3 linked regions of the Homo sapiens genome follow. The protein of the gene in region 1 interacts with the protein of each later gene in a pairwise test. Each region holds a gene or a part of one and is shown in the gene's direction. Other genes may lie near its edges.

The links.
Region 2: the proteins of CCDC92 (region 1) and TRIML2 interact in binary tests that used the Homo sapiens proteins (3 or more experiments, as listed by UniProt).
Region 3: the proteins of CCDC92 (region 1) and DISC1 interact in binary tests that used the Homo sapiens proteins (3 or more experiments, as listed by UniProt).

Annotation. Positions count from the first base shown.
Region 1 is NC_000012.12:123,945,287-123,947,878, reverse strand, and holds part of CCDC92 (coiled-coil domain-containing protein 92), read left to right. Parts: exon of another isoform or gene 1-2,175; intron 2,176-2,592.
Region 2 is NC_000004.12:188,107,493-188,111,251, reverse strand, and holds the start of TRIML2 (probable E3 ubiquitin-protein ligase TRIML2), read left to right. Parts: upstream 1-1,648; 5' UTR 1,649-2,009; intron 2,010-3,759.
Region 3 is NC_000001.11:232,038,686-232,041,836, forward strand, and holds the end of DISC1 (disrupted in schizophrenia 1 protein), read left to right. Parts: 3' UTR 1-2,587; downstream 2,588-3,151. UniProt on the Homo sapiens protein: Involved in the regulation of multiple aspects of embryonic and adult neurogenesis. Required for neural progenitor proliferation in the ventrical/subventrical zone during embryonic brain development and in the adult dentate gyrus of the hippocampus.

The DNA of each region.
Region 1 (2,592 bases):
CACAAAGAGTGAGCAGTAGCAAGATTTATTGCAAAGAGCGAAAGAACAAAGCTTCCACAGTGTGGAAGGGGACCCGAGCGGGTTGCCACTGCTGGCTCGGGCAGCCTGCTTTTATTTTCTTATCTGGCCCCACCCACATCCTGCTAATTGGTAGAGCCCAGTGGCCTGTTTTGACAGGGTGCTGATTGGTGTGTTTACAATCCCTGAGCTAGACACAAAGGTTCACCACCTCCCCATCAGATTAGTTAGATACAGAGTATCCACACAAAGGTTCTCCAAGGCCCCACCAGAGTAGCTAGATACAGAGTGTCGATTGGTGCATTCACAAACCCTGAGCTAGACACAGGGTGCTGATTGGTGTGTTTACAAACCTTGAGCTAGATACAGAGTGCCAATTGGTGTATTTACAATCCCTGAGCTAGACATAAAGGTTCCCCACGTCCCCACCAGACTCAGGAGCCCGGCTGGCTTCACCCAGTGGATCCCACACCGGGGCTGCAGGTGGAGCTGCCTGCCAGTCCCGCGCCGTACGTTTGCACTCCTCAGCCCTTGGGTGGTCGATGGGATTGGGCACCATGGAGCAGGGAGCGGCACTGGTCGGGGAGGCTCGGGCAGCACAGGAGCCCATGGAGTGGGTGGGAGGCTCAGGCATGGCAGGCTGCAGGTCCCGAGCCCTGCCCTGCGGGAAGGCAGCTAAGGCCTGGTGAGAAATTGAGTGCAGCGCTGGTGGGCTGGCACTGCTAGGGGACCCAGTACACCCTCTGCAGCTGCTGGCCTGGGTGCTAAGCCCCTCATTGCCCGGGGCCGGCAGGGCTGGCAGGGCCGGCCCGCTGGCTGCTCTGAGTGCGGGGCCCGCCAAGCCCACGCCCACCCAGAACTCCAGCTGGCCTGCAAGCGCCGCCGCACGCAGCCCCGGTTCTGCTTGCGCCTCTCCCTCCACACCTCCCTGCAAGCTGAGGGAGCGGGCTCCGGCCTTGGCCAGCCCAGAAAGGGGCTCCCACAGTGCAGCGGTGGGCTGAAGGGCTCCTCAAGTGCCGCCAAAGTGGGAGCCCAGGCAGAGGAGGTGCTGAGAGCAAGCGAGGGCTGTGAGGACTGCCAGCAGGCTGTCACTTCTCAGAAGCACCTAAATAGGAAGCCCATGGAAACAAAAGCTTTTCAACCCTGAAGCCCTTACATTCCTCTGGCACCACAGCTGCACTCAACAGACTGGCACCAGGCCCATTCGTGGGCCTCCAGGGTGCCAGGCACTGTGCTAGGGCTTAGGGTGCAGCAGTGAACAATCTGGAGTCTGTGCGAGGAGGCGGGAAACAGACCCACACTTACAGACCCTCACAGAGACACAAAGACTAGAACTGGGGACAGGGTGGTAATGCACCCGAGTCTGGGGGCCAGGGCTTCCGGGAGGAAGTAAACTTGTACTGAGACCTAAAGGATAAGTAGACAGTGGAGACCCAGGAGAGGTGGGTGGGAGAGAGGCCTAAGAAGAGTGTTCTGGGCAGAGGAGGAGCCATGAGAGGGCACCAGGGTGGGAGAAGCACAGCCCAGCAGGGCACCCGGAGGAAAGCTCGTGCCACCTGGAGCCCTGGGGGTAGGAGAAGGGCCAGCGAGGGTGGCGGGGCCAGTTGCAGGGCCGGGCAGACCAGTCTGATTCTCAGAGCAGTGGGAACCATTGGAGGTTTTTAAGTAGTCTCAATTTAAAAACAAGATCACTCTGCTGCCACGTGGAGAGCAGAATGGAGCAGGTAGGAGAGGACAGAGGGAGGCTTTCTGGCAGGGATTTGGGTGAGGGTGAGGACGGCCTCAGCAGCGGAGACGGGGAGAGTTGAACGGATCTGAGAGCTGCTTTCAAAGCAGGATGCCAGCAAGATCATCATGGACTGGAAATGGATGGCGGGGGATGCCAGCGTCAAGGCCACCCCCAGGTTGTGCAGCTGGGGACAGTGCTTGTGAGGGGTAGGACACTAGGCCTAGGGCAGCTCTCCTGTCATCCAAGACCCACTAAATTCTGGATCACATTTAAATGGTTCTTTCTCTTTGACAGCAAGCCACTAACATATGGGCTCTGCTTCTTCCATCAGCCAACAGAATCCTGGATTTGAGTCTGTCCTTTGAAAGCATCTCTGCTAGAGTTCCCACTTCCAAACCCCTTTCAGCTCTTCGGGATTCAGCCTCCAGGTGAGGTGCTGGAATTGATGCCAGAGTGAACGACTCCGGATTGCTGAGTGGAAGGAAAACGTAGGCACCGCTACTGACAGCTCTCAGGCGCTCCTGGGATTTTCCTTCCTTTGACGCTGAGGCTGTTCCGCTTTCAAGCGTTCTGCTTTGTGAGGGAAGGGCAAGGTCAGAAGGTGCTCACCCTTTCCACAGCAAGCACGCGGCACACGTGTGCCACACGCTGAACCTGCCTTGGTTGTAGCTGGCTCCTTTGTTAAGGTCAGCGCCCCCCAAGACCACGTGCTGTGCAGACAGTGTTGGGATCTCGGGAACTGTGGGGTTCCACTTAGAAACTAGTGTCTGGCCCAGCAGCCTACACAGGAGAGTTTGCGGTTACAGCACAGAGACGGTTTCGGGGACAGAAACATCCTTTCTCAC
Region 2 (3,759 bases), on another chromosome or scaffold:
TGTACCTCACGGGGTTGGAGCATGCAACAGGTGGGGCATGTAACAGTAAATAAGGGTTTAGCACACTTTTTTGTAATGTTTTTAGAATTATCTTAAAATATTGACTCTTCTAGAATTAATAATTTAATTATTAATAAATATTTATTTAATAGTAAAACAGGCTTTAATAAGTATTTATTTAAGCATTTAATACTCTAAAACAGGCTTTAAGAGACTTCAAAACCTGACAATATGCTTGATGTTTATTTTCCATTTGATTCAAAGATTACAAAGTTTTCTTGTCAAGATGAGTAAGCTCAAGAGTTATGAAAGCTCAAGGGATGGTGAGAGTAAATGACAGAGTATCTGACAACAAGTATGTGTGAGTATCTTCACAGACGTTGGCCGTACCCAGGCTTAGAAGAGAAAGGAAGATTGGATTAGAAAAATAAGAGAAGTAAAGGAGGATGGACTGGCTGAGGAGGGGAGGGGGCACAGGAATAAATGTGGTCTATTTGAAGAAAGCTGGGGAATTGGGTTTTGGAAAAGAGAGTGGGTGTAGGTAATCATCTGAGATAAGAGAAAGGGTGTATGGCCAGGCGCGGTGGCCAGAACTTTTGGAGGCCAAGGAGGGTGGGTCACCTGAGGTCAGGAGTTTGAGACCAGCCTGGCCAACATGGTGAAACCCCATCTCCACTAAAAATACAAAAATTAGCTGGGTGTGGTGGGCGCCTATAATCCCAGCTACTCGGGAGGCTGAAGTGGGAAAATTGCTTGAACCTGGGAGGCGGAGGCTGCAGTGAGCCGAGATCGCTCCACCGCACTCCAGCCTAGGCAACAGAGTGAGACTCTCATCTAAAAAAAAAAAAAAAGAAAGAAAAAAGAAAAAGAGAAACGGTGTATTGAGATTCCATAAGGTAGAACCAGGTTCTGAAAGATCAGATAAGCAAAGCAGAAGAATTCTCATTATCCTGTCAGCAGCATAAAGAAAAAAACTCCCTGGTTTGATTAGCAGGGGATTGACTGACTGATGCAATAAAAACCCTCGGGGACAAAACTATAAAACTTAGAAAGCTGTGAAGAGTTCCTCCTCACTGAAGCCAAATATCAAGTATGAATTATCTGGGATTGTTCCCTGACCTCCCATCTGTGACAGATTCCATAGGCAGTTATCCCTACTCTTGGTTTTTCTTTCCACAGATACTGGAATGAACACTTCTCCAGCAAACGTTCTAGAAACTAACAAGTCAGGCATTATTTTCTACTAAGGAACAAACACAGTCTTGAGTGTTAGCTCGAAGGCTTCTTTCCTGTGAAATTGTCAATATACACTAGATTCATTAAGAAAGAAAACCCCAAACCTTAAGGAGCTAGAGGTGTTAGGCACTGTACATGGCACTGGAGATAAAACAAGATATTTATCCAACCAAGGTCAGGGCTATTAAGCATTTTCTGGGAGTCCATTAAAAATGTAAATTACGGACCCCACCGTAGATTTCTGGAATCAGAGACCCTGTGAAGAGGCTTGCGTTTTAATAAACTCAGGTGGTTCTAATGAGATTAATTGTGTGAATATGATAAGAAACTTCACAGACGCCTTCCTGATGGTGTGAGGGCGGGGCTGAGGGAGGAATTGAACAGATAAAATCTCTTCAGTCTCCACTGTTCCAGCTTTTTCCCTAAAGGAAATACCTTGGTTCGGTGTGGTGACTCATTCCTGTAATCCCAGTACTTTGGGAGGCTGAAGCAGGCAGATTGCTTGAGCCCAGGAGTTCAAGACCAGCCTGGGAAAAATACTGAAACCCCGTCTCTACAAAAAATACAAAAATTAGCCGGGTGTGGTCGTGCAGCGCCTGTAATCCCAGCTACTCAGGAGGTCAAGGTGGGAGAATCACTTGAGCCTGGGAGCTCGAGGCTGTAGTGAGCCGAGATTGCGCCACTGCATTCCAGCCTGGGTGACAGAGCAAGACCCTGTCTCAAAAAAAAAAAAAAAAAAAAAAAAGGAAATACCCAGGATTGCTACAAAGAAAGTAAGTGAGATTTTCTCTATAGATCATTTTCTTAATAATTGTTTCTTTAGATTTCTAAACTTGATCTTAGAATCTATGTGTGTGTGTGTGTATCTGTGTGTTATCAGGAAAAAGCCTGAAGAAAAATATTAGGAAAAACAAAATAAGGGTAGACAACATGCTGGGGACTTAATTCGTCAATTTTCCTTTGCTGTTTCTGTAAAAATATTTAGTCTCTGTCCCTCTCTCATTACACCTTCAATTTTTACTGGTTTAACATAAAATATCGTTTACAATATTTATTGTGCATCGAGTATGTCAGATGTAGACACAGGGCATCTCAAGGACTTAGTTTCTTATGGATGGAGAGTGACCCACAAGTAAACTTGTTCATAGAAAGATAAAATCTTTTCGCTACTAAGAAAATAAAATAAGGAGATGAGTAGTGGGAAGGTATTTCAAATTGAGTAGTGATGGAAAGGTCTCTCTTGGGAAGACATTTGAGCTGAGAACTGAAGAGAAGAAAGAAGAGGCAGCTGGAATTGCAAAAATATGAGAGAAGAGCTCTGTTGGCCACGGAAGGGGGAAGGGCTGTGATGAATTAGAGGCAGCTAGATTGACAGTGATGGGGGAAAGCTATAGAGAGATCAGAAGAAGGCAGGAGGCCAGATTGTATAGGACGGGGTTATTACCCACTTCGATCTTACTCTAATGCCATAGAAAGTGACCACAAACCTGCTCACTTGGTTTTGGTTTTAAAATAGTATTCTGGTGGTTGAGCAGAGAGGAGCTGGAGATGGACGAGGAGGGCAGGACAGAATATAAATTTGGAAAACAATAGTTGAATTGGTGAAAGGAAGGCTTAAACTGTGGCTCTAAAGGAATGAGTTTGGGGGAAGAGAGCCACTGGGTTGAGATCCTGAGCGGCTTTAGATATGTTAATTTTGAGTGCTCCTTAGACATTCTATTGCAAAAATGTTGGGAATTGGGCAGGAGATTGAAATCGGAGAATGGAACTTAAATCTTCAGAAACGAGTAAGATTACCTAGGGAGAGACCAGGACTGGGAGACCAGAACTCAACCTTGAAGCACCCCAAGATTGAGAGGTTCAGAGGATGTGGGACCAGAAAAGGCCACGGAGAACAAGACCAGACAAGTTAGAGGAATGTCAGCTGCAGACAGATGAGAGAAGAAAACATTCTAGGAAGAAGGGTGTGGTCAGCTATGTTAACTGCTGCTGAGAGCTCAAGGAAAAATTTGAGTTGGTGAATTTCTTTGTTTTGGTGACTCAGTGGAGTCATCTCGGACATGTTCAGGGACCTAAGACACGGGAAACCAGCAGGGATTTCAAAGACCTAAGCAGAAGAAAGGATGAGAGCATCAAAAACAAGGAAGGAGGGAGAAAGTATTTGCAACTCACACAATTTACAGGAACTTGGATCTATAGCTCTCTCTTAAAATTGACCCCTCCCTCCAAAAAGGCCAAACCTGATGGAATAAACTGAGAGAGAGGCTTGAACATAGACTTCACAGCAAAAGAAGTGAAAATGGTTTTTTAGCATATGAAAATAAAAGGCTTAGACATATTAATAATATAACAGATGGAAGTTGAAAATATATGAATACACTATTTCTCACCCAGCCAGTGGGCAATGATCCAAAAGTTTAACATCTTTTTAATTTGTTGCTTGGAGTGCAAAATTGTACAACTTTTGTGCTTGGGAAACTGACAAAACATATCAAAATTATGGATGCATTCATTCACAGTCCT
Region 3 (3,151 bases), on another chromosome or scaffold:
CCACACTCACACTTTTGCAGAGTGTTGAGCTTAATAACTACCTGCCACAGATTGGTAAATTTAATCCAGTGGTTGTTCTGTTTGTGCTTCTGTTCTCATTTATGTGTTTAGGGATAGTGAGGTTCCTGCCTTCACTAGGATCCACGGATATGAGACCATTTTTGTCATTTCCTGAAGTCACACTGGCGTTTCCAGAAGGCATCTGGTGCTTTGCTCAGCCTTCCATGCTGTGCAGCACTTCTGTCCTCAGTCAAGGAGATGGCCATGCTTAAGCCAGCAATTGGCTGGGGTCCAGGAAACAAAGCAAAAGCACAATATGTGAATGTGCTGATTGTGTTCCCTATGGCTTTATCTCGAGCAAAATACACTCTACATATTTTAATAATAAGTATAATTAGCTTGTTCCTGGACTTCATTTTCAATGATGAACCAAATTCCTGAATTATTTATAATTGTGTCTAAAGAAAATTATGAACTGGTCACATGGCACTTGGAATCCTTGAGTTAATTCCAGTGAAGCAAAACTTGGGAAGAGTCAGGATTGGCCACATTGCCAATAACAAATTCCTACTTCGACATATGTCTTTTCAAAAAGCCTCCCAGACACAAGACATCTTAACCGTCACTAGCCCAAGTGTTTTGTATTACTCAGACACCATCATGAAATAATTCTGTGAGGTCATGATGTATTTGAAAATTCTGCAAGTTAATAACTGCCTTGAATTGTTTGAACCCGAAATAAGGGTTCTTTGGTACCTCTAGTAGATAGTGTGTTCATTTCCCTGCTGCAAATTTTGAAGTATTTGGGCAGGTGAGTCATGTTTTAACCACAAGCCATAACTCATCTGTTGTCTTTGCTTGGTCTTAGAGTATCATTCAGAAAGTCCGCTAAGGGCCAGCGTGCTTCTTCTGGCTACACAACCTTCTCAGGACAAGCCCACTGTCTTAAGCCACTTTGACCCTGGGAGACACAGGACTGTGTATCCTCAATCATACTATACAGCAGTTTTTGTCAGGGGAACATAAAAATATCCAAGAGAGGTTAGGGCTTAGATTTAAAAGCATCAAAACAACAACAATGGAAATTTATGTTGGCGATAGCCAAGACCACAAGCAAAAGCACATACTGGAAATGATGAGTTAGAATCTGATTTGACTGGGATGTTTTATGAGAATGTAAGTGTGATATTATACTGTCTGCCTTGCTGGAATGCTGGCTTTCAAATGGTCACCCATTTTTCTTTCACTGGCCTGAGTTAGGACATGCTATCAGTAATAGTCCCAGTTCCATCCAACTTTCTGAAATTTCATTTTTTTTTTTGAGATGGAGTCTCTCTCTGTCACCCAAGTTGGAGTGCAGTGGCCCCGCAATCTCGGCTCACTGCAACCTCTACCTCCCAGGTTCAAGCTATTCTACTGCCTCAGCCTCCCAAGTAGCTGGGGTTACAGGCATTTGCCACCGGGCCCTGATGATTTTTGTATTTTTAGTAGAGACAGGGCTTCACCATGTTGGCTAGGAGGGTCTCAAACTCCTGACCTCAGGCGATCCACCCCCACCTCGGCTTCCCAAAGTGCTGAGATTACAGGTGTGAGCCACCGCACCCGGCCAACTTTCTGAAATTTCAAAACTGAATTGATCCTTCTCCAAATTAGTATATACTATTGGAAACTTGTCTTTCCCTGCAGTAAGGCTGGTTTCCCCACCCCAGAAACATGTAACGGTTGGTACCATGCTAAGCCCTTGCCATGCTAAGCCCTTTACAGTCATATCCTATAATCCCCATATCAACCTTATAAGGAAGGTGTTTGTAGATGATGCAACTGAGCCTTAAGAGGACTAATTCCCTTTTTCTAAGGCACAGAGCTGGTAAAATGTGAAGTAATAGTGAACCTAACAGTCAGAGACAGGCAGCATGCTCTTAACTAGTGCTCTTCCTAAAGTTCCTTTAATGTCCTTTTGAGATTTTGAGCCATGGAACTTACTTGTTCACCTGGCTAAGAACTCATGGCCACTGTGGAAATCTTGGTTAGGGAGTCAAAGAAACTGAGCCTGGGGCAAACGAGGCTTCCCACACTGCCAGGGGAGCCTCACTGTGAAGTCTAGGCTCAGACAGGCATCAACAAACCTATTCACCCCACCATCATCCTGATCTAACCATTCCCCAGTCATCCCAGGAAAACCACTCACAGCCTGACACTGGGCTGACTTTCTTGAAGATCCTCATCCAATTGGTGTTTTTCAGAAGTGTTCCAATATTATGAATTCTGTGTTGTGGAGAAAAGCAACCATGCATTTACTGGTCAATGCCTTCTTGTATATGTAATTCAATACTTTTACTTTTAATATCCTCACCTTATCTAATCTTTGAATTTTGTCATGTAATTTATTGCTTCATTAAGGTTACTTTTTGTTATACAAAATAAAAGCTGATATCCAAGGCATGGTGCATCTTGATGATTTTTTGTCCTTTGAAGTATGGATGATAGAAAAATGTATCAGGTTTATTCATCTCATCTTTCTGTTACAGGATGATTAATTGTACAGTTACATCACACGAAACATTTATAATAAAGTCATGCTTTAGAATTGCACGTGTTTACTTTCAGATATCAGCAAATCAGAAAATCATGAAATATTCTATTCCCAGACTCCTAGATTAAGGAAATTGAAACTAACATTACCACTAGAGTTGGGAACAAGACAAAGATACCCACAATACCACTGAAAATATTTTACTGGAGATGCTGGCTAATTTAGTTAGGCAAGAAAAATATAGAAGGGTTACAATTTGGAAAAGAAAAAATAAAGCTTTAATATTCACAGATGATGTTATTGTAAGCTGAAAACCCAAAAGAATCAACAGAAAAACGTTTACACAATTAACACAATCAAAATCAACAGGCTTCATATATGCAGACAATAATTGGAAGACTGAGTATAAGAAAAGACCCCATTTTCAATAGCAACAAAAAGCAAGAGAAAATGGCTAAGAATATATTTATATAAGAAATGCATAAGCCTTAGATGAAGGAAATTTTAAGATGAAGGACATGAGACAAGAATTGAATACATGGAAAGACACATTAAGCTTTTGGATAGGAAGGCATCATAAATTTAAAAATTTCCATCAGTCAATTTATAAATATTTCC